Linked DNA regions of Homo sapiens: region 1 is linked to region 2. The links come from fine-mapping of genetic effects on gene expression. A gene starts in region 2. The other region holds a variant in brackets. All regions are shown on one strand. Distances are between the middles of the regions.

Evidence for each region. PIP is the estimated chance that this variant, and not a neighbour inherited with it, causes the effect. A credible set is the group of variants that fine-mapping cannot tell apart.
Region 1: its variant is the best candidate, but not a certain one, in a credible set for the expression of ADAMTS8 in prefrontal cortex (CommonMind, PIP 0.84).

The regions. Positions count from the first base shown.
Region 1 is chr11:130,399,431-130,411,301 of GRCh38, forward strand. ADAMTS8 (ADAM metallopeptidase with thrombospondin type 1 motif 8) reads right to left here. Exons shown (of 9, transcript NM_007037.6): 7 at 9,338-9,510; 8 at 9,034-9,209; 9 at 5,493-6,698. The coding sequence ends at 6,128. ZBTB44-DT (ZBTB44 divergent transcript) reads left to right here. Exons shown (of 7, transcript NR_148980.1): 6 at 1,580-1,657; 7 at 3,871-4,227. Among named protein-coding and RNA genes, the nearest start is that of ADAMTS8, 23 kb to the right of the region's middle. The variant G/C (reference allele first, on the strand shown) is at 8,054.
Region 2 is chr11:130,421,717-130,434,012 of GRCh38, forward strand. It overlaps ADAMTS8 (ADAM metallopeptidase with thrombospondin type 1 motif 8), which reads right to left and starts at 6,893. Exons shown (of 9, transcript NM_007037.6): 1 at 5,851-6,893. The coding sequence starts at 6,570.

The DNA.
Region 1 (11,871 bases), 22 kb before region 2:
CCCACCTTTGGGATCTGAAGAACCATCTCCATCTAACAGTGAAACTAGAAAGAACCGAGGGACTGACAGACCATGTCAGGGCCACACCCAGGACTCCAAACAGTGGTGGAAACTGAGGGGCCAACAAGGAGGATGAGGTAGAGAAGCTGGGCCATGAGGGAGCCTGGGTGTGTATTTATTTATTTACTTTTGAGAAGGGGTCTGGCTCTGTCACCCAGGCTGAAGTGCAGTGGTAGGATCACAGCTCACTGCAGCCTCGACCTCCCTGGGCTCAGGTGATCCTCCCACCTCAGCCTCCTGGGTAGCTGGAACAGCCCTGGCTAAGTTTTTTATATGTTTTATAGAAACGAGGTCTTACCATGTTGTCCAGGCTGGTCTCAAACTCTCGGCCTCAAGTGATTTGCCTGCCTCAGCCTCCCCAGATGCTGGAATTCCCGGCATGAGTCACTGTGCCCGGCGTATTTTTCTTTTTCTTTGTTTTTTTTTGTTTTAGACCTAGGTGTTTAAATCTCATGATGTACTGTGCCCTTCAGAGAGCTGGAGGATTAATTTAATCAGGGGGAGGAGTTATCTTCTGAGTCTTCACTCTCCTATGGACTTGACAGAGATTGAAACATGCCTGTTGAATCCAAAATAAGAGAGAGTTATAATGTTCCTCTAGATTCGTGTCTATACGTGGCCCGTTAATGGTGAGCTGGTGTCCCCTCTCCCTTCCATGATAAGAGATACGGTACTGGGCTCCACTTAGCAGTGGAGGTGAGTTTGTTCACTCACAGCGAAGCGTGGCATGGGGATGAGCTGGAGGAGCATGGGAAGCGCAGAATAGTTCTGTGGACAACCATCGGTATTGCTGAGAGGGGGTCTGCTCGGGTTGCTGGACAGTTTCCATCAAACGCTGTAACTTTATGGTGGCACCAGTGTGCTCAGGGCTGGGATTCCCCCGGGGTGTGGATCTGCTTGTAGCAGGATGACGTGAGAGGTGAGAGGTGGGGAGAGGGGAATGGGTGCCGTGTGAGGCTCTGCCTGCTGAGCAGCACAGAGAGTCTGTGGGGCAAGGGCAGTGAGAACACTGGCAAGATTGAGGTGGAGGCGCTGAACGTGGAGTCCAAGCAGCTCAGGGAAAGCTGAAGACAGAGGAGCAGGAAAGATGGATGGGGGAAGGACACGTGCGGAGGCGGTCAGGGCATGGGGAAGGATGCATTTATGGGAAAGATCTGGGAAGATGGGAGATTGTGGTTGAGGAGGAGGAGATTTGATGTAGGACTTCAGAGGTGGAGCAGTTCTGAGTAATGAGCAGCTTCAGAACGTGGCTTCAGGGCAGCCTCGTTGAACCTTGTCACTGATGGGACCCTCTCTTCCATCCCATGTCCACATGGCTTCTCTCCTTGCAGCCTCTGACGCACCTCCCCCGCAGCTACCCTTTTCCTATTTTCTGGTCCAGCAAGAGGAACTCACAGCATCTTTTCTTACTTCCGGAGAAATTCATTCCACATGTGTCTGATTCATTCGCGTTTACAGAAACTTGAAATTTCCAGTGTCCAAAAACCCTTTCAACTATTTTTTTTCTTCCCTTTCTTAGAAACAGGAAGTTGTGTTTGGCTGCGGACAAACTCTCTCAGTGCCCCTGGGACTTACAAGATGTTTGGAATGAGGAACGGTGAGGTCTGGGGAAGGCTTCTTTCCTCTCTCCTTTCCTGGGGCGATTCGCATCTGCCAGGGCTGGGCTGGGCAGCTCTGGGGGCTGGAAGGCCAGCCGGAACCTTCCTGTCTCTTTCTACTGAGCCCCAGGCCTGAGGGAAAGTATGTTCTAAAGAGACAGGTGGCTTTCTTGCTCTCTGCTTGTCATTACGGTTCAGAATGCACTTGTGCACTGGTGTCATGTCTCTTCCCAGTACTTGAGCAGTGGCTGTGATGAGTCCCTTGATCTATTTCAGGGGGTGTGGGCTGGCCGGCACTCAGTTTTAAGCAAGTCCTGCTCTTTCCAAAGTGGAAGGTCAGAAAAACTCCCCACCTGAAGAAGAACGAGCCAGGGAAGTGTGGTACCAGCTGTTTAGGACCACACCTATTGGTTACGTCTGGCCAGGTCATTCTGCAGTGTTGACCTGGAAAGCACACAGGTGCTTAGGAGGGGCTGGCCAGGGGCAGGGAAAGTGTGGGAGTCACAGCCCACCCACTCCGTTCGCGGGACCCTCCAGTTTTTACTGTTGCTCGTTGTGTTCTCCTGTGTTGTTTAGAATGTTGTCATATGTACGGTCAATACAACCACAGTATTTGTCGCATTAGTGATCACCAACATTGAGCCAATGAAGACGCTGGCTTAGATGGGTGACTTCTTCTTTCCCACATTCCACATGCAGCTCTCCCAATGCGAGCTCAGCGGAGGCCCCCAGAAAAACGTGGGGAGGAGAGTTTTCCCCATAAGACAGACTGTCCTTCAGCCCCGGCCACCAAAGAGGAGTAACCCGGGCCTGCTGTTCTCTGGGACTGAATGCGGCTGCATCCTTCCCTTCCTCTGCTTCCTGTCCCGGTACTTACTGACGGTGCACATGCGGGGCTTGGGGAAGCTGAGTGTCTAACCGCGGTGCAGCTACGGATGGGAAATTCTGGGCAGGGACGAGCCTGTCTTCACCTGAGGAATTCCCTCCCACATCACACAGGGCAGAGTGGGAGTGGAGGAGGGCAGAGGACACGTCTCAGGGCCAGTAACCTAGGCTTATAGAAGACGTCATCACCGTCCTCATGATGTTCACCCCGTCTCCTGTTTTTTGGGGCCATGTGTTCCGAAATGTAGCTTCAACTCATCATAGGGGCAAAAAGAAGTGATGAGTCTGTGGCAGCAGAAATCTGGGAATCCAAGGGTCGTGCTACATCTAGTCCTCTTTGATAAATTCTGCCTTCCTGTTCACATTTTTCGAGAAACCATTTTGAATTCCCAAACAGCAAAGGAAATGCTGCAGGTTCCTGGAGGGACCTGGTGATCTGGGGCAGAGCACACGGAGTCGAGATTGCTGCGGGGTTCACGAGCCTCCCCTCCTGGGACCAGGGGCACCTGGGCAGGGTAGTCTGCACCACGCAGGAAAGCCCAGTACACGCAGCTGCTCAACGCTGCAGACGCCATAGCGCAGGGCTGACAAGGCCTCCCTCTTTATCTGCCCTGGACCACAAGTGGAAAATATCAAGACAAAGCAAAAGCCAGTATCCCTTAAGAACTTTCCAATTGTTCTTGTCATTTGTAGTTTTGTTTTTTGGGGGGTGTGGGGAGGGAGGGGTGGTTTGAAACAACTCCGGAGCACACTCCAGAGGAAAACAGGAAGGGTGACATGTTTGGACACCAGAAAAGAGGAAGAGTCCTCACTAAGAGGGTGACTTGGTTAAAAAGTTCAAGCACAAAGGATGTAGAAGCAGGTGGATGTCATCAGAGAACAGATGCGGATCTAGTGAGATGGGTCCTACCACCCCTGGAATATGTTCCTGGGAGAGGGGTGGTCTGCTAGAGTGGACTGGGAATAGTAATATTGCATACTTTTGTAAATTCACAAAACCCTCTGATCTGTGATAGAGGAATAAAGGGCAGAGGATAAACCCCAGATAAAGATTCACTTATCTTAAAAATGAAAGGTTGGAAATTAACTTTATGCTACTGTACCACCTTCGAAGTATTTCTGGCAGGTGCCTGGAGGATTCAGATTAATGACCAAATTACCTGCCAAGTCAGGGCCTCCCATTAGAAGAGAGTACCAGTTTCCATTAGGAGCACTAGCTGGAAAACACAATCTTTCAGCAGAGGAAATACAGTCTTCTCTCCTTCTCTGGGTGCACAGAGTGGTCGTGGTTGGCTGGGGCAGATAATGGTGTGGTCTTCCTCTGCAGATCTGGTTTCTGAGTCCCTGGGCTGCAGCTGTTGAATTTCCAGACACAAACAAGTATGCGTTCTGAGAGCCTCGCCGAGCCCACACAACCGGGAGAGCCAAGCTGGATTCCATTCTGCTTTGCACATCAGCAGCTCTGCTGCCAGCTGAACTCCAGGGCAAAAGCTGTGCCTGGTAATGATGCAGGCAGCAGGGATGGCACAGCTGGCCTGGCTTAGGCCGTTAAGGGGGACACGCTTGGCCTTATTTGGGGGAGAGCGAGAAATGGAAGGCGATGAAGAGTTGCGGAAGCATACATCAGCCTCCACAAAACTGGTGCACAGCAGGGAAACAATCTGGTTTTGCTAGTCATCAACAACATGCCTGTGTGTGTGCCTGTTTATGCTTAGGTAAGCCCAGCCTCCCACTCGCTGAAAAGAGTAGGCAGACAAGAAGGAGTGACCAACTCTGAGTCAGCTGTCATCGTGTAGAGAGCAGCTAAGGGGAACAGTGGGGCTGGAATCTCATGGCCTTGCCTAGTGCCCCTACAGCATCCTCTCTGCCCATGGTGCCAGATATCTGAATGGGAGGACAAAGGGGGCACAGGTGGTGAAAAAAACCAAGATGCACATTTGGGTATTTTCCTTCTTTTGCTAGAATGTCATTTCTTGATGTCTGTTTCTTGTCACCCATTTGTGATCAGGGACTAAGTAAGTTCCCTCTGCACCAGACCAGGTGGAAGACTGAGCCAGAGTTCCTCTGAGCCACAGGAGAGATGAGGAGCTATGGAGCGGAGTAGGGGCTGAGGATCTGGTGCCCCCAGCTAAACTAAAAGGAGGCAGGCAGCATGTAAGAGGATGATGGGGTAGCTCACAGAGAGGAAGGGGATATTCTTTCTCAAGAATGATGAGCCCAAAGGCATCGCATAACAATTGTGATCTCCCAGCTGGACGTTTCCTGTAGCACAGGTGTTCACAGTGTGGCTCCCAAACCAGCAGCCTCCATGTCAGTCACTGGGAACTTGTTAGAAATGCAGATTCTCAGGCCACCCCAACCATTAGATCAGAAACTCTGGGGATGGGGCCCCACAATCTGTGTTTTCTTTTCTTTCTTTCTTTCTTTTTTTTTTTTTTTGAGACAGGGTCTCACTGTGTCATCCAGGCTGGAGTGCAGTGGCATGAAAATGGCTCACTGCAGCCTCAACCTCCTGGGCTCAAGTGACCCTCCCACCTCAGCCTCCTGAGTAGCTGGGACTACAGGCCTGTACCACCATGACCGACTGATTTCGTTTTTTAATTTTTTATAGAAACAGGGTCTCGCCATATTGTCATGGCTGGTCTTGAACTCCTGGGCTCAGGCAATCCTCCTGCCTCAGCCTCCCAAAGTGCTGGAATGACAGGTGTGAGCCACTGTGCCCAGCCTCACAATCCATTTTCACAGCCCTCTACGTGATCCTAATGAAACCTTGGGAACCACTGGTCTAGATCCTGCAAATGAAAGTTGCCCGAATGAGCTGGATTCTGCAGGCCTGTGAGGACCCAGAGCAGGCAGGGATCCAGCTGCTGACCTAGTTTCAGCCTCCATCCCTGGGTTCTAGGTTGCTGCCCTTTCCAAAGAAACAATGAATCAGACCAGACCACTGCATTGGCATAAGATCACACTTTAGTTCAGAGACACATTTGCATAAATACTTGAAATGGATCCACCCCTGCAGGTGGCAGCCTGAGAACATGTGGCTCTCCAAACCCTGCGACGCTGCGGCCCTTTAGGTGATGGATTTTAACACTGAAGACAGTCGTGGTCATTCTTGAAGACAGCTTGGGGTCCAGCTTTGGAGCCTGCTTTGACATTCACCATTGACTCCCTGCCCCACGCCTCTCTTGTACTAATTTTTTCCCCTGTGAGGTAGATTATTTATCGGGGAAACCAGATAGAATTTTTTTTTTCATTTAAGTTTGCTAGTCCTTTGCAAACAGACTGACGCTGAGTGTCCTGTCTGAGTCAATAAGTGCACTTTTACCTTTTAACCTATGCCCTCTACTTGAACCCGAGCAAGGTCCAGTCCACTGGACAGTTGATGATAGGGTCTGCCGCCCCATACCCTCTCCTCTTCCCCCTTAGGAATTTGTGCAGTACTGGAGGGGTTGCGGCAATGGGAGGCCTGGGTGGGCCGTGCTGCCTTGATATGGCCAAGGGACCCAGTCACCACAGTGGAGACCCTTGTCTGCACCTCAGTACCGCATGTCCAGGAGCACAAGACTGGCCCCTGCCCCCCTGAATCACAGGGGGCACAGCTGGCTTTCGCAGGGCTTGGCATCCTCGGGTTTCAGAGCCTTGTTGCAGGTGGCAGAGGCCTGGCCGGAGGGGTCCCTGCACTCTACAGTTCGCCTCTGCCAGCCGGCCCCGCAGGTGCTAGAGCACTCAGACCAGTCCCCCAGCACCCACTGTGCGTGGAGCAGCGGCTGGATGATGTTGGTGGTTGCTCTCTCTTTGCTGCTCTGCATGCTAAAGTCCACGTCATTAGGAACAAAGAAGGTGTATTTGACTTTTGGGGGGAAGACCTCGCCAGGGACTGTCAGGAGCTGCACTGTCAGAGGCTCTGGCAAGGGCCGGAAGCTCTGCAGGCGCTCCAGGGTGGCGATGGAGCCGCTGTACTTCAGGATGGTCCCCTTCACCAAGATGTCCTGCTCTATGGCAGAGATGGCCAGGTTGCCGTTGAGCAGGTACTGCCCATCAGCCGTCTTCAGCGCCAGGTAGTTCCCATCGTTCTGCACACCCGGGTGGCTCCGCTGCTTCACGTCAATATTAGTGGCACCAGCTGGGATGGTGACAATGTCATTGTAGCCATAACTGTGATAGAAACAGAAGGACACCCTTAGACCAGTGGCTGCCCAGCCCAGGTCACGATGATGCCTTGGAGACTGAAGTGGGCACCCCAGGTGGCAGACACGAAAAAAACAAAGCAAGTAATTAAGCAAGTTGCCTCAAAGTTCTCAATAAATTAGCTGTTTAGGCAGACAGAAATGTCTGTACATTGGGATTTTCAAGGGTGTTTGCTTCATCTGGCAACTCTATTTCAAAAGTGTGGTTGAGGAGTTGAGGTATGTGGGTGTTGAGAACAGCATAGAGACGAGGAGAACCCAGAAGGATGTGGAAAGCTGCACTGGTGTAGCCAAACCTGGCACCTGTCAAATGTGATCTCAAATACCTCTAGCTCCTTGCACTGGTATACAACTTTGATTGGCCACCTCCATACCCAGAGCTCAAACCCACATGGAAAAAACTGTTCCACACACCCCTTCCAGAACGTGAACAGGAGGGAAATTTCACACCACCTCTCTGAGTCAGTCGGCTCCTAGTATTTGATGAATATGGCCCTAGGGTGGGATCAGGGTGGGGTTGGGAGTTGGGGGTTTAAGCCTGCTTCTTTGAAGCCACCTTCTGGGAGTGCCCAGGCACCATGAGCACTGTGCTTCTGGAATGATAGGAAGCAGTTTTGGGAAACTGTTTCCAGTCCATTATAGGCTTAGGGCTTTAGGTAGGATGAAGAAAGATTAGTTGTTTGTTCTTTTCTGGAAATCTGGGTTCCATAGGCTGGGGAGAAAGTGAGGCGAGTGGTCAGGCGGGCTTTTTGCTTTTCTTACCATATGTCCAGCTGGGGCTAGCTGCTTAGTTTCAGACTCTTAGAGTGTCCACAGGCCCATCTGTCTAAAGCCTGAGGGAAAGTGGCCAAGGGACCCAGTATCTGAATAGTGTCTGCTTCTCTTTTTCTATGTCTTTTGAGCTTAAATGTAAAAAGAGTTCCAAGGCAGGGCGCAGTGGCTCATACCCACAATCCCAGCACTTTGGGAGGCCAAGGCGGGCGGATCACTTGATGCCAGGAGTTCAAGACCAGCCTGGCCAACATGACGAAACCCAGTCTCTACTAAAAATACAAAAATTAGCTGGGTGTGGTGGTGCATGCCTGTAATCCCAGCTACCTGGGAAGCTGAGGCAGGAGAATTGCTTGAACCTGGGAAGCAGGTTGCAGTGAGCCAAGATCGTGCCACCGCACTCCAGCCTAGGCAACAGAGTGAGACTCTGTCTCAAAATAATAAAAATAAATTAAAAAAAATGAAAACAGTCCCAAGTTGCCTGCTGTAGGCTGATTCTGTTCTCTCAGACTGGTGAGATGAGAGATGTAGAGACAGACAGACAGACAGACA[G/C]ACACACACACACACACAGAATGGGGCAGGGTTTGCGAGCTTCACTAGGTAGAATACAATACAGTGAACACTTCTCAAAAACTCTGAGACCGTGAGTGGGGGAAGTGGCTGGACAGGTGGATGCTCACATAAGCCCTAGGACACATTGATGTACTGGAGGCAGACAGGCAGAGTGTGGCCCATATAAAACACCCGAACTTGCCCTTACTCTGCAGGAAGTACATGGAATGGGAGACAAAAGTCATCCAGGACTTAGGAAAACTAGGTTCTCTTCTGGCTGTCATTAACCATCAATGTGACCTTAGAAAAGTCATTTAATCTTTCTGTGCCTTAATTTCTTCCTCTGCAAAATGAGGAATAGTATTGGCCTTGCTCACCTCATGGACTTATTTTACAAATCAAATGAGACCATGGAAATGAAAGCGCTTTGGAAAATCCTTGGAGTTTTATGAATGTGGGGCATTAGGATGAGAAAAAAGTGTCTGGAGTTCTCAGATTCATGAAAGCCCTGAGGCTGCCAGGGCCCCTTTTTGGTAACCCCCTTCTCTGAAGATCCATCTGCAGAAAGGACAGGGGCTTGCCAGGCTTAGGGTGAGACGTCCTTCCCAAAACAGGCCTGGGAGAGCTGTTTTCTGGCAGAGGTCCAGGTTACTCAGTGTGGCTCGATTGACTCAGAGATGACAGCTCCCTATCCACATGGCCTCCAGCCCTCGTAAAAGTCACGGCTGCCCTGTGTTCTATCTTTTCTATGAGCTCGACACTGCCAAGTGCACATCCCATCTCAGGAAATCCTTACAACGACTCTGAGATAGAGATACTGCTGACATTTTACAAAGAAACTGAAGCTCGGAGAGTTTAAATAACTTGCCCAACCCTCACAGCTATTAAGTAGCAGCCACAGTTCAATTTGGGCCTAGCAGAGTGCAAAGCCCATTATGCTCTTCTACCAAGCAAGGTACAGAACTTCTGGGGAGACTCACTTGGTGGGGGTGAGGGACCCGGAGACCTTCCTGCAGGAGTTGCCTTTGCCCCCACACACCCCGCATTTGTCCAGCTTCCGAGGCGAGTCCACCACATGGTCACAGCCGGCCTTGACACACTGGCCACGGACACAGATGGCCAGTGTTTCTGGCCCACACAGGGTGCCATCAATCACCTGCAACGGGGAAAGGGAAGGTGAGGGAGGGCGTGTTGAGCACAGAAGCAGCCTGCCGGGGGGCGGGGGTGTGGGGACAGGCGACCTTCCTCCCCATCTCTGGATCTGAGTCCCAGGGTGATTCTCACCTTGGCCTCGAACACTTTGAACTCGCTCCTCCCCCGGGCTCGGCAGAACAACTTGCAGCGGTCCCGGGGGGACACCCCAGCATACTTGGGGACCCACTGCAGGAGATTCCCGTCCATGTCAGTGTAATTGTAGGCATTATACTTCTCACACTGCTGCTCCCTGAAGCTTTTCCCTAGAAAGAGGAAGAAACGGCATGGAGGTGACACCCATGCGGAAGCAGGAGCATCCGGTGGAGAAATCCCGAATTTACAGCACTTTTCTTCTTTCTTTTGGTTTTGAACTCAACCCAGGCGCCCAGGGCCAGTGTCTTCTGGGCACAACATTCCTAGACGCATGTGTGACCCTTACTCAAAAGGGCAAGGAAAGGAGCCTCCAGCCGCATGCTGGGCTTTCTAGGATAAATGCCCTTTCCATTAGGGAAAGAGACTCATTGTACTCTACAGGTGAATAAACGCAGGGAGCAACAGGGAACAATTCAGTAAGCTTGGAAGGCACAGAATGGCATGTGGAGCTATATTCTCAGGACACTACTAATTGTGCAGTATCGATTTCCTCAGTGACACCGGACATGAATCCAAAGACTCCTAAATCTACATGTCTAGCTCTGATCTTGCCCCTACACCCACATTCCGTAATTCTGGGTGTCCCTGGGGAGCTCCGTTTGTATGTACTGTGATTACCTCCAACTCAGCATGGCCAAGCTCCCGATGGTCCTTCCACGAACTGTCTTGACTTTCATTTGCTGATCTTACCATGCCCAAGTCTGAGACTGGTATCCTGGTATCTCCCGAACATTTGAGCATCTCTATCTGCTATTTCCAAACTGTCACAAAGACCCACACTATATTCAGGACAATCTGTGATTTAAAACGATGGCATCCCACTCTCACCACCACAAGCCCAGGCCTGCTGGCTTCATGGGGACCTGTGCCTGCCTCCTCTCCATCCTGCCACGTGCTGCTGCCAGACCAACCCATCTGAAGTTAGATGTGGGTTGCTTTCCACCCCCAAATCCTAAAATTAAAGCTGTTCTTCCTGCCAAGGTTCCCTGCCCAAACTGTGCATCTGAATGCCTGGGGAGACTTTGCCAAGGCAGATGCCATACTCCACGCCTGAGACTCTGAGTCAGTGCAGCTGAGGGGGTCTGGGCTGTGTCTGCAGGAGCTTCCAGGTGACTTAATGGGACAGGTGGCACAGATAACTCCCAGATACTGTGTCAGCCTTCAAGGACCTCTGTGGTCTGGCCTTGACATAGTGGTGTGCTTTGCTTGATTCCACCTAAGTGAATGAGGGCCCTTCTCACACCTTTCCACCACCCTGGCAGGTCCCCTCACACCTCACCCATCTCAGTCCTCCAGACTCTGCTCAGTCCTAACTCCTTTCAAAGCTTCCGCTCACCCAGCCTTTCCTTTCTCCGAGCGCCTCACCAACCTAGGGTCTGTGACTCATCCATTGAAATGTAATGGCTGTGTTAAAGGGATTTGGGTCTCTAATTGGACTACAAGCTCCTTAGGGACAGAGACCATGCCTTTTACATTTTCATACATTTTTATAGTTCTAGACACACAAAAAATACTAAAAAATACTCGACAGTAATGGCAGACTTTGGTGCATCTGACATCATGGCATCACTTTTCGTCCACACCTACCTTGCACCCTATATTCATTCTCATCCTCCCCCTTTCCCAGCAACGTCTCACCCTGTATGCCAGGCAAACTCTCATACAATTCCAGGGCAAAGTTTCTAGAGCCTCAAACCATTGTGGATCCTTCTTGTCTTGTGAAACCGCAAAGCCTACAGATTCTCCTGAGACATCAACCCAATGCCAGTGTCTTTTCCCGTGGTTGAATCTCTCCTAAGGCTCTGCCTGATTTTTCTTGCCTGCCAATCCTTCCTGGAGCTGCACACTGGGCAGTTGGATGGGATGGTGGGGAAAAACCTTGTAATGATTTCCCTCTCACGAGTTTGCTGCTGCCCCTTTACTGCCTCTAAGTTAATGTTCATGGTTTCCAGCAGGTACTGGGGATAGGAATATGCCAAGGGGAGGGAGAGGTAGTATTCCTTCCTGGGAAGATTCTGTCAAACAGTTGCCATGTTCCCAAGGGAAGATGGGCAACTCTTCTCAGAAGGAATGTGAACAGGAATCAGATTCAGAAATCCTCCCTCTGCCCTGGGCTGAATTTTGGCTAGAAAGACCTTGGAGGTTTGGCTCTGACACTTGCTTTGGAAAATGCTTCCATTCTGCACACAGATGAGGGTTCCTATGCCTCCAGGAGGATTAGTTTCCTAGACACCAGCCCCTCTGCAGAGGCTCCTCCCCAATAAGTTTGGTTGGGAGTGATGTCCTCCTCTCCACATCTTGGAAGATGAGCGTAATTTCTCTCCTTGACTTTGCCAGGCTCTCTGAACACTATGAGAGCTGTCCCGGGTCCCTGAGAGCTGCCCCTGGGATTGGAACCTTGCAGAGCCCATTTAGGTGGAGATCACAGGCAAAACTCTACATCCCAGGAGACCCAATTTACTCCCCTCTGG
Region 2 (12,296 bases):
TGAGCCTGGGTGAGGTGGGGGACCTCAGGGCTGTGAGCCTTTGATTCTCCCCCAATATCCTGGGTTCAAAGGACAGGCCTGACTGAGAGTCCTGTGGGGATCAGGCCTGCGGCTGGTCAAGGAGGAAGTCAGATGGCTTGCTCCACCACCTGGTGCCGATTTACACCTCCCTGCTCCCCACACCAATGCAAGCTGCATGTGAAGAATGTGAACGGGGTCCTGGCCCCCCTGAGGAGCAGAGGCATCAGCAGAGCAGCCGCCCCCCAAACCACGGCAGGTAGGTGGGAGCCCACGGTCAGCCCAGCCAGGGTGGTCAAACAACCTGCTCTTGAATGACTTGGGGATCCCATACTCTTCACTTTTGTTAGGGAGAGGCGGCACTTTTTAGGGAGTCTGCTCGTGCATGAGTGACCCCAGGACCTGGAGTAGAGATGAACATCAGGCCAGTCAGGGTGGCTCATGTCTGTAACCCCAGCACTTTGGAAGGCCAAGGTGGGAGAATCACTTGAGACCAGCCTGGGAAACATAGTGAGATCCTGTCTCTATTAAAAAAAAATGAATTAAAAAAAAATAACAACACCCTGGCCAGTTGGGTGGGCCAGAGCCCCTTTTGGTTCTTTGAGATACGAACAAGGAGATTCCTTCCTCAGAGCTTCTGTGGTAGCCGAAGCCAGCTGCGGTGGGTGATGGGGACGGGCCGGCCTCCTCCCGCCCCGATGTCATCATTACATCCAGCCGGTTTGCGCTTCACCGGTGGCTCCACAGCTTTCCCTTGCGGCGCGCCTGGGGGGAGGTCAGGTGAGGAAAAGTGGCCCCGGGAAGCTCTTGCATTCCCTCTTCCTATCTGACGTCTCTAGGGCCTGAGACTGAGCTGGGGGTGTGGAGATGGAGAAGCAAAGCGAGAGGAAAGAAGTGAGAGGAGAAAAGAGCAACCTGCATCATATGCTTCATCTCCTCTTGTTCTGCAAGCAGCAAAGAGCAATGTTGTCCCTTGAAAGCATACGCTGACGCTGAACTACAAGTCAGCCTTCACCACTGAGCATGGGCAACTGAAAGAGAAGGTTCCTCTGCCATGTGGAACAGCAAAGCTGAAACAGCGGTGGCCGGCACTCTGATGGCATGGCCCAGCCCATCCTCCCCACTCTAACAAATGGTTTCCATCACCGAAGGCAACTCTAGTAATAGCCATGCCTTGCTGAGTATGTCGTCTGGACCAGGCACCAGGTCAGGTGCATTCCATATTTTCTTACATCCTCAAGACAAGGCTAGGACATTGGTATAACTGCTCCTACCTGAAATAATCGAGGTACACAGAAATAGGTGACTTGCTCAAGGACACTACATTATTTCGATTTCATTCCAAAGTTTGTGTTCTTAGTCTCTGTACTAACTGCCACCCATCTTTGCTGCTGTAAGGAAAACTGCAGCCTAGCCAAAGTGAACCCAAGGCTTGCAAGCAGCAAGTCCGCCTGTCATTGCCTATGCACACCCCACCTCCTGGGAGATGGGGAAGGGGCGATCTTTGGACACTGAGACATTTTCTTTGGGAAATACTCCATATCTTTGATCATTCTGACTGCAGCAGACATAAGGGATGGAAAAGATGCATTCTTTTGCCAATGGGAAGGACATCACGCACATATAACACTTGTCTTTCTCCCTGGTAGCCACAGAGCAGGGGGGGGCATGAATCTGTTTCTGTTGTCATCCAAACCAGGACACCCTTGAGAGGGAAAGACGGTAGTATTAATAATTATGCCAGAACAGGCAGAAACTGGGATGCTGCTGGACAACCTAGGCTGCATGCCCACTTTAGTGTCTTGTGGAAGACATTTTCCCCACAGCATGCAGGTAAGGGGGCATGGAGATGGCTGTGACAGCCGTCCCTGAAGTCAGTCCCCAGAATCTGACCTCCTGCGAGTGTTCTGCTGGACTTTGGGAAGATGAGCGCCACTTTTCGGACCCTCTCTGCTAAGAAGAGGACTCGAAAACTCTGCTCACTGCAGAAGCACTGGCGGGACAGGCGTCCCAGGCTGGCGAGAGTGGGCACTGCCATGCTGCCCCTCACTCCATCTCGCCCCGGGTTCACACAGGGGACACTGAGCAGCAGCTGGACGTAGACAGAGCTAATGGAGTCTTCCCAGGTGGTCCCTCCTTTCAGAAAGGCCCCTCTGTCTGAGCTCCTTAACTCTGAAACCAGATAAGAAGGTGGGAGACAGGGGCCCCTTTTCTCATGGGATTAAATGAACTCAATTGACAGAGCTCTGGAAAACTTCATTGTCGCGTAACATAGTGAGACCAGCTTTGGCAGTGGTGCGTTCTTTCTCTCAGCCTCCACGGCGGTTTCTTTGCAGGATAGGGCCTCACAGTGGGCCTGGATGGCTTTGAACTGCTGGATTTAAAGACCCACTCCCACAACATAAGCAAGTATCAGAGGGTCGACAGAGCCACAGACCCTAGTCCTGAGAAAGAGGCCGCCTGGTGGGATAACAGTGCACAGGATTCAGCTTTGGGAGACTTGGTCTGCAGGCCCAGCCCTGCCACTTACTGATCCTGATCGGTGCTGTCTGATCCTGAGGAAGCCACATGTCCTCTGTGAGCTGTGCAGTCTCCCTCTGCCCCCCTCACTGGTATTTTCATGGAGGTGATGTGTGTAAAACCACGCTGTGAATTGAACACGCTCAGAGAGTGGCTAAACCTTCCAGAAGACTGGCTCATCATGAAGCAGCCACACAGGTGCTCAGACCGGGATTGATCACCTAGTCCAGGTGTCCTGCTTCACAGATGAGGAACTCTAAGCCCTAGAGAGGTAAAGGCTCTTCTCATCCTCCACACCCCTGATTACCAAGAGTAATCACCCCAGAGTGCCTTCCCTCTGTGTGAATGAGGTCTCCACATAAAGGACTGGCTTCCATTTGCAGGAGGTGGGTGTGGGCAGCCAAGGTCTTGAGGCACGGGAACTTGATTTTCATTCTTCTCTCAGCTGGGCTCATGGATCTGTTTTCGGAAGCGCAGGGGACTGAGCTGAGACAGTCACGCCTGTCCTGCAGCATCTCCAAGGCTGGTCAGCTCATCATAGCACAGGGGCCCGAGGGTGGTCCTGGACACAGCTGTACCTCAGTCCCTCCCCCACCCGCCACGGTGGCAGCAGGAGCACAGGTGGGATGGGACATGAGACCCAGGGTGGAGGTGGCGGGGCTAGTCTCCCTGAGGGAAGACTTTTCTTCCAGGTGAGACTCAGAAGTCAACCCCCTAGGGAGAGGAACTCAGCCTTCAGAGGTGCCCGATGCCTGTTTTGCTGCGCTCTCCTGGTCCAGGTGGGCTGGCTGGGTGTGCAGGTGCCAATGTGCAGCTGGGAAAGGTCCAGAAATGCGTGTTTGTGGGGGATGGGGAGCGGGGCAAGCAGGAGCCACATCGCCCGGTCAGGAGTCTCATGAGGATGGCAATGCCTGGGTGTCTCTGACACAGAGAAAGCCGAATTGTCTGGGGCAGCAGACCTGAACTTTAAGCTGAAGGGAACAAAATCGGGTGCAAACCCAAGCAGAGTCTCCTGCTTCAGCAGCCCGGGCATCCTGGGGTCGGGCCTCAGAGCATGTCTGCCTCTAGATAGCTAGGATGTCTGGAGATGCGAGTATGTCCCTGAGGCAAATACTCAGTTATCTCCAGCGTCCAGGTGATCAGCTGAGAGAGTGAGACAGTCTGGCCCTGAAGGCTGAAAAATGGACTTTCTCTGCTGGCACGGAGTTCTCTTGGCTTTCCTATGTTTTGGTTCTTAGGTAGATGTCAGAATCTGTTCCATGTGTGGGGGTAGAGGGGTGTAGCACCCCGCTCTGGGTTTGCAATGGGTGCATCTTAGCTTCTTACTTTTTTTGTGTTTTTCTTTTTTCTTTTTTTTTTTTTTTAAGATGGAGTCTTGCTCTGTCACCCAGGCTGGAGTGCAGTGGCGCGGTCTCCGCTCACTGCAAGCTCTGCCTCCTGAGTTGACACCATTCTCCTGCCTCAGCCTCCCGAGTAGCTGGGACTACAGGCGCCCACCACCACGCCTGGCTATTTTTTTTGTATTTTTAGTAGAGACGGGGTTTCACCGTGTTAGCCAGGATGGTCTTGATCTCCTGAGCTTGCGATCTGCCCACCTCGGCCTCCTAAAGTGCTGGGATTACAGGCTTGAGCCACCGTGCCCGGCCATCTTAGCTTCTTTCTGGTGGAGCCCCCTAGGAGCCAGGTGTGGGGGTCCTAAAGAGATGGGAGAAGCCCTCTTCTCACCCCTCTCCTGCCACACTCTCTAGTACTTGCTTAAAGAAAGGAGTCAGAGGAGAGGGCTGGTGCTCCCACCGCTCCGTGCTCTCAGGACAGGCAGGGAAACAGGTGTTAAATCAGCGTGACCCAAAGCTGCTCTGCCCTGCTTTTGGGGAAGCAAATACCACAAGGGCTTGCAGGGGTGCGTCCCTGGGGTGTAGTCAGCACCTGCAGTAGCCAGAGGGGCAGCCACGTGGACTCTCACCCACAGCAGTTCCCATCCTAATCATCTGTTTCTCCCTGGGTCTTTCCTACCCTGCCTTTCCCAGTGATAGAGGGTGGGAAAGATGGGGTGAGAAACAGAAGGCTGATCGCCTCCTTGTCTGGACTATTCTGCACAGGCAATGCCTATGCCCTTGGGGCCCCCAGCAGTCGGGCACAGACTGAGCCTAGTATTGGGTCCCGGCCAAGGATGCCATCACCACAAAGTGTCAGCTTAGCTGCTGCATTGCCAGGATCCCTGTTTCAGGGAACTATGACGTCTGGGCAGGTCAGTTCTTCCTTCCCTGGCACATCTCTGGTTCTGTGCTCCCTAGGGGCAAAGAGCACCCCTCTTCTGGAAGCCTTACCCTCTTTTCCTCCTGGAAAAGCCTTCACCTGGTCTTTAGGGGAGAAATTGGGGTTTAGGGCAACACAGACACCTCCTGCTGAGTCAGCACCATCTTTGCATCTAGTTAGAAATGGTCTGGTTAGGTAGCCATCCCCTGGACTCTGTTTTTCTCCCCTGTTTAGGTAAGAGCTGTGTCTGGGCTAAGGGCAGCTGGGTGGACCAAGTGTGGGTCTGGCTTTACTAGAGACATTCACCCAAAGAGCTCGTTCCAGCCCCTGCGCCCCTCGCGTTTCCACCAAAGCTTCAGCTCCTGGGCTGAGCCCCCAGGCAGAAGTTCTCTGCCCCTCCCTCTTGTGCTGGCTGCTGGCATTGCCAAGTTCTGCCGGGGCTGAGCGCCAGGTTGGCAAGGTAGTCCATGCCCCATTGATCACAACCAGCTGGCTGCACAGAAGTTGGGCAGCCCCTCTCCAGGTTCAGCTCCTTTCAAACAATGTCTTTTGCTTATGGCGACCTCCATACCCAAGGGAATCAGACAGCCATCTCTCTCCATCCCATCTGCCTTTCCCTGGGAGCCTCTCAGATCTGGAGGCAGTAGAGGGCTGAGGGGTGGGAGTGGGAGCTATTCGTAAACGCTCAATTTTCATCTCTGCTGGGAGAGGCAGGTGCCGGGGAATGCGTTGATACCCACTTTCGGGTCAGTGCGCCACGTGCCGCGGGAGATTCGGATGAGAGGGATGGGCGTCGGCAGCCCCACTCTAAACTGGAAGGGACCTGGGGGTGGGGGCGCAGGGATCCAGGGTGGCAGAAGTTCAGAAAAGAGTTACTGCTCTTTCTCAGACAGGAGAGAATCTCGTTTGGGGTAAGGCTGGAGAAGATGAGTGGGGAGGGCTTTTTTTTTTTTTTTTTTTTTTTCTCAGAGGGATTGGAAGGGGAGATTTTAGAGACGCTGGGAGGCGTCTGGGGGGCCTCCGGGCACGGCGGCTGGAGGAGGCTCTCAGTCCTACCTGCAGGTCGGCCCCGTAGAAGGCAGCCATGGACGCATCGGCCACCAGCAGCGTCTCCACGAAGCGCGCCTCAGACACAAACCGCTTGGTCCTACTCGTGGCCCCCAGGGGCGGTGGCGGCTCGCTAGCGCCTTCTGCCTCCTCTTCTTGGCTCTCCTCCTCGCTGTCCTCCTGGTGGTCTCCTCTCTCCTGCCTCTGACCCTCTCCCGTCTCCACCTCCCACTCGGGTCCTCGCGGGAGGGGGCGGGCTCCGGCGGGACCCCAGCGCTGCAGGCGGTGCGGCTGAGCCAGGGAGCCCCCCGCGCCCTGCGGCTGGATGGTGAACTCCTCGCCGTCCAGCAGGAAGGAGCCGCTCAGCCCGCGGCACAGGCTGACCGCCGCCAGCGACTCGGGCTCCCCATTCACGGTGCCGGAGAAGAAGCAGCCGCGCAGCCCCCGCTCGCCCCCGGTCGCCCGGCCGGAGCCCCCGAGGCGCTCGATCTTGAACTCGGGCGCTAGGAAGCTGTCGTCGGGCGCCAGGCGCAGCACGAAGCCCTTGCCGAAGGCGGACAGGTGGAGCGCGAGCTCGCCCGCGCTGCCGGGCAACCGCGTGGGCACCACCAGCTCCGAGGCCTGCCCCCCGGCTGCGGGCCGGGCCGGGGCGCCGCGGGCCAGCGGCAGCAGCAGCAGCAGCAGCAGCAGGAGCGGAGGCCACCGGGGGGCGGCGGGGGCGGGGAGCATGGGGGCTGCGGCGGTGGCTGCGCGCAGGAGAGGGAAGAAGCCCGCCAGGCGCGGGCAGGTGCTGGCGGCCCGAGCGCGGCCCGGCCGCTCTCTCCAGGAAAAGCGGAATCAATCGGGTGCAAGGCCGACTCGGCCCGCGGGGCCCGGCGGCGGGAGCGCTCCCCCGGCGGCCCCTCTGGCTGGCGCAGCCCGCTCCTCCCGCGCCGCCGCCCCCGAGCCGAGCGCGAGCAGCTGGCCCCGGCCCGCGTGCGCCCGTCCTCCGCCCCTGCCCGCGCCAGCCCCGCGCAGCCGCCTCCTGCCTCCTCCCCACCCCGGGAAGCACCGAGTGGGCTGCCGAGCCCTTCTTATTTATACTTCCTTCCCGGCTTGACATAAGAGGTTTATTTTTGATCTCTCACTATTCCCGTTTCCCCTCCCCTGGGATCAGAGAGAGAAACTGAAAAGAGGGAGAGAGAGTGGAGAAAAAAAAATTGGGATGAAATGCAAAACCAATCAGGCAGCGAGACCCGTCCGCCACCCGCCCCCCTGAAGTGTCAACTACAACTTCTTTCCTTTCCCTCTACGCGTGGACCCACGTTAACCCCTACCATGCTGGACTGACCCTTTAGAAAGAGTCCCTGGGAGACCCCAACCGCTTTCTCCTCTGCGGCCAAGAGTCCAGGATGCATCTTCCGAAGAGGCTCGTGCACTGGTCTCAGCGACCCTGTTCGGATCCCTGCAGAGTCCGACTGCAGAGCCCGACACTGTTGGGATCCCTGCAGATGCCTCCGGAGATCCGACTGTGTGGGGAGAAGGTTCCTGAGCTTTTCATTGTAAAGCATAAAGGGAGAGGAGGAAAAGGTCATGCTAAAATCATGCCCTCCTCTCATCACTACTGCACAGCCTTCCTAACTTTCACTCCAAACTGAAGATGGGGAAAACAAAAACAAAACAAAAAACAACCCACCTGGTTAACCCTAAGAGGGACTCTCACTGTCCTGTTAGAGGGCAGGTGGGGCAGAGGCCAGCACAGTGGTAAGTTACCAGCACTGAGGTTGGAAGTTAGCATTTCCCCAAGAGGGAAACAGACCTCCAGTCCCTGAAAAAGGTCTTCTCTTCTGGATACTGCTAGTTGCCCGGGACTTCAAGTAAGGTGGCAGGCCCTTTCACTGCGTTGCCACAGCCCCAGGAACAAATGTGTATGAGGTGAATTTATTCTGTCCCATGTCACCACTGCCCCCTAGGGAAGGGGGTAGTATTCAGGAAGAGAGGGATGACATGGTCTCAAGACCACAAAACTGCATCCCATCCCAGTCTCAATGACACAGGTCTGGATTGGGTGGAGGGCCCTGTTCTCTACCTACAAACTCTAGACTCATCCACCAACTGTGCCTTTCTCTGAGTTGTCAATGTGGGTGATGCATTAGGAACCGCTGGGATCAGGGCCTTTAAATCCTTTGCCAATTCACCTGCCCCCAGGTACCCAGCTCTGTGCTTATGCTGGGGATGTTGACAGTCGAGGTCATCGCTGATTCTTTTCAGCCCATCTGACCCCTTCCTGCAGTGTGGTGGTTCAGCATGCATCTGAGACTCTCAGGGCTTGTTACCTCCAAAGAGGAGGCTCTTGCCCAGGGGAAAGTGCTGCCAAATTCCCTCTAAGTATCCCCCCTCTCTTTGCTTTCTCAGAAACACAGAGGGACAGCTGTGAATTAGATGAAAGGATGAACTTCCCAACCTAGCATGGTGCAGAACCTCCTTTCCTGCATAATTTATAGGATAGGAATAACGAGTCTAGAATGTTTTGGGGAAACACTTCTAGAGGAAGGACAATGGAAAGAATGGTCTCTTCAACCCTTTTCTCAAAACAAGCAAAACACTTCGTCCTAGCACAGTGTACAGTGCTTGGGACATCCTGTACAGTGCTTGGGACAGTCTGACCTGGGCAAGCAATGAATACAACTCTGTGTTGCCTCAGGGCTATTGTAACAGTTCAATGACTGGTTTTTACCTCCTTGAAGCCCCTTATTTGCTGTTTCCCAGAGTACAACTCCTGATTTTCTCTTTTTGAGACACAGTCTCACTTTGTCACCCAGGCTGGAGTGCAATGGTGCGATCTTGGCTTACAGCAACTTCTCCCTCTCAGGTTCAAGAGATTCTCCTGCCTCAGCCTCCCAAGTAGCTGAGACTGCAGGCAGGCACCACCACACCTGGCTAACTTTTGTACTTTCAGTAGAGATGGGGTTTCACCATTTTGGCCAGGCTGGTCTCCAACTCCTGACCTCAGGTGATCCGCCTGCCTCAACCTCCCAAAGTGCTGGGATTATAGGTGTGAGCTACTGTGCCAGCTAACTCCTGATTTTCAGTAGCAGTTAGGTCCTGTGGGTTTTCCTTCTTTCTCGAGTGTAAGCATCTGGGAGGAGTGGGAGTGAGGAGCGTGCCCAGTTTCCCTTTCTCCCGCCCGAATGCTAAGGGCTAGAAGTGGGAGATTTAACTGAACCAAGGAAAGTCTTGAGTGTCCATGGAGCCTTTGGTTGTGAAGGCTCTGGAAGTTGCTGCTTCATTTTTATTTTAGTTTTTAATTTTTTGAGATGGCGTTTCGCTCTTGTTACCCAGGCTGGAGTGCAATGGCGAGATCTCAGCTCACTGAAACCGCCTCCAGGGTTCAAGTGATTCTCTTGCCTCAGCCTCCCAAGCAGCTGGGATTACAGGCTCCTGCCACCATGCCCGGCTGATGTTTTTTTTTTTTTTTAGTAGAGACAGGGTTTCACCATGTTGGTCAGGCTGGTCTTGAACTCCTGACGTCAGGTGATTCTCCCACCTTGGCCTCCCAAAGTACTGGGATTACAGGCGTGAGCCACCGAGCCTGGCCACTGCTGCTTCATTTTTTTAATAGGATGAAGTGCCCCCATAGGTAGCATTTTGGAAGTTCTCTTTGGAGAGAGAAGTCAGATAGTGAGTTCTGGACTTTATCCTTCCTCATTTCAACAACAACATCACCACCACCCCCACCACCCCCACCACCCACCACCGCCGCCGCCGCCACCACCACCACCACCACCTGCTGACTGGTTCATTGACTGGCCCCGCAGTCCCCGCTCCCTCCTGGATTTCCCCTTCCCCAGATGTGCAGTGCTGCTAACTTCCAAGGTAGCTCCTGCCGTTCGCAATGCAACCACAAGGTGTCAGGCTTACCTTGGCTATGTTAAACCCAGGACCTGGCTATGTTAAACCCAGGACCTGGCTATGTTAAACCCAGGACCTGGCTATGTTAAACCCAGGACCTGGCTATGTTAAACCCAGGACCTGGCTATGTTAAACCCAGGACCCTTGCCACAGGGAGCGAGAAAGGGTGGGTGGTTTGTAGTGGCCGCTCTTAGAGGAGTGGCAGGTGAAAACAGTGCAGCAAAACAAACATCAACAAACCAACCCGTGAAAATCCCATAACGGCATTCTGCCAATTCCGGATTTCTTACATTACTACTTTATTTCCCAAAATATGTAATTACGGCAGGGTTGCCAAACTACGGCCCTTGGGCTAATTGCTGCACACTGCTTGTTTTTTTGCACTCTACAAGCTAAGAATAGTTTTTATATTTTTAAGTGGTAAATTAAAAAAATTAGAAAGAATATTAAAATTTCTTGACACTTGAAAATGGTATGAAATTCAAATTTGTGTCCATAAATAAAGTTTATTGGAATGCAGCCACAGCCATTCATGTACGCATTCTTTGCTCTTGAGCTGCGAGGGAAGGGTTGAGTAAGCCTAAAATATTTACTATCTGGCTCTTTGCAGAAAAGTTTGCTGACTCCTGAATGTAAAAGAGCATCAATTTGGATTCCTCAAATTTGGAATCTGGGATTACTTAAGCTCGCTATATGCCATTCTTATGGAATAAGAAGCTCAAAATAATTGCTTGCTCTGAATGTGAAAAGGAAATTATATAAAAAATGAAAATATCTTTGTTTTGTCTTTAATTCTGTATCTAATAGTTGCTTATTATTTAATCCATCCTTAATAATTAAAAGATTTTTATGTTTATGGTGTCTTATACTGTAGGCCTATAGTGATTTTTAAGTTTTTGATCAACTTACATTATTAGTGACTGCTTATTTCTTAGTTTATAACTAGAGTTTTATATGGTATATATGATACATTTTTAGTGTATATAAGTTCTGGTATTCTTTAGAATTCCAGACTCCTTAAAACGGGAAGAAACAATGGTGATCATCTAATCCACTGCCACTCACATTTTGCAGAGAAGAAACAGAAATTCAGAGGTTTCAGTGACTTACCCAAAATGACATAACTAGTGATGAATTTTTTTCCCCAAAATACTATCGTATCCTCTACATGAAGATAAAAAAATTGTTTTGCTTTAGAACTTCATTTACAATTCGTACATTTTCAGTAAAGTTTAGTGTTTACTATGGGCCTGGGCATTGTTCTGAGCACTTTTTTTTTTTTTTGAGACAGAGTCTTGCTCTGTCGCCAGGCTGGAGTGCAATGGAGCCATCTCGGTTCACTGCAACCTCTGCCTCCTGGGTTCAAGTGATTCCCCTGCCTCAGCCTCCCGAGTAGCTGGGACTATAGGCGCATGCCACCATGCCCAGCTAATTTTTAGTAGAGACAGGGTTTTACCATGTTAGCCAGGATGGTCTCGATCTCTTGACTTCGTGATCTGCCCACCTCAGTCTCCCAAAGTGCTGGGGTTACAGGCGTGAGCCACCGTGCCTGGCCGCACTTATTTTAATTTAATTTCCATTCAATCCTCAGTAATAATAGCTTCCATCTTTTGAGTGCTTGCTGTGCACTAGGCACTGTGCTGAGCAGCTCACAACTCTTATCTCATTTAATCATCATGACAGTCCTCTGAAAAAGACACCTTACAGACAGGTAAAGAAATAGGCTGGAGAGGTTAGAGAACTTGCTTATGGTCACCTAGCTAATAAGCAGCAGAGACAGAATTCTTAACCAAGGTGGAAATCATAAACTGGAAATTGAATACGACAGTTTTCTGGTGAGATTGTGGTACACTGAATTAGTGTTCCTTTGAGCAGAACCAAGGATTACATCATGGTATTACAGAGCTGGAAGAGACTCCAGGTGTTCATTGGGCCTGTCGTTGGAGATTTCTTGGGAGAATGGCCCTCCTTTAAAAATCTCAAAGAAGGGAATAAACAGCTTCTCTCAAAAGCCTGCGCTAGCACTTAAATATAAACAGAGTTCTTTCCTTCTAAACAAAGTAATACCATTTGTGCTACAATTCACGTCCATTTTCTGTAAGTTTGGCTATTGTGCAATGGCTGTGACTCCACATTGCCTGTAATAAAGGATTTCCTTGTCCTCCTCTATCATATCACTGAGCACACATCCCAGGCAGGCAATGTCTGATTTTTGGCATCACTTTTGTGCTGACAGTCGCCTTGTATTCCCTTTGGCCTGCAGGTTTCTGTGACTGCCACCTGCATGTGTGGAAGCATGTCTGTGCTGCTTAATTCTTCCTTAGTCCTAGATAGTCTCTCTTTTTGGAACCTTTAAAGGTTTTCAGTATTTAGAAAATCTTTTTTTTTTTTTTTTTTTTGAGACAGAGTCTTACTCTGTCACCCAGGCTGGAGTGCAGTGGCATGGTCTTGGCTCACTGCAATCTCCGCCTCCCAGGTTCAAGCAATTCTCCTGCCTCAGCCTCCTGAGTAGCTGGGATTATAGGCACCCACCACTATGCCTGGCTAATTTTTGTAATTTTAGT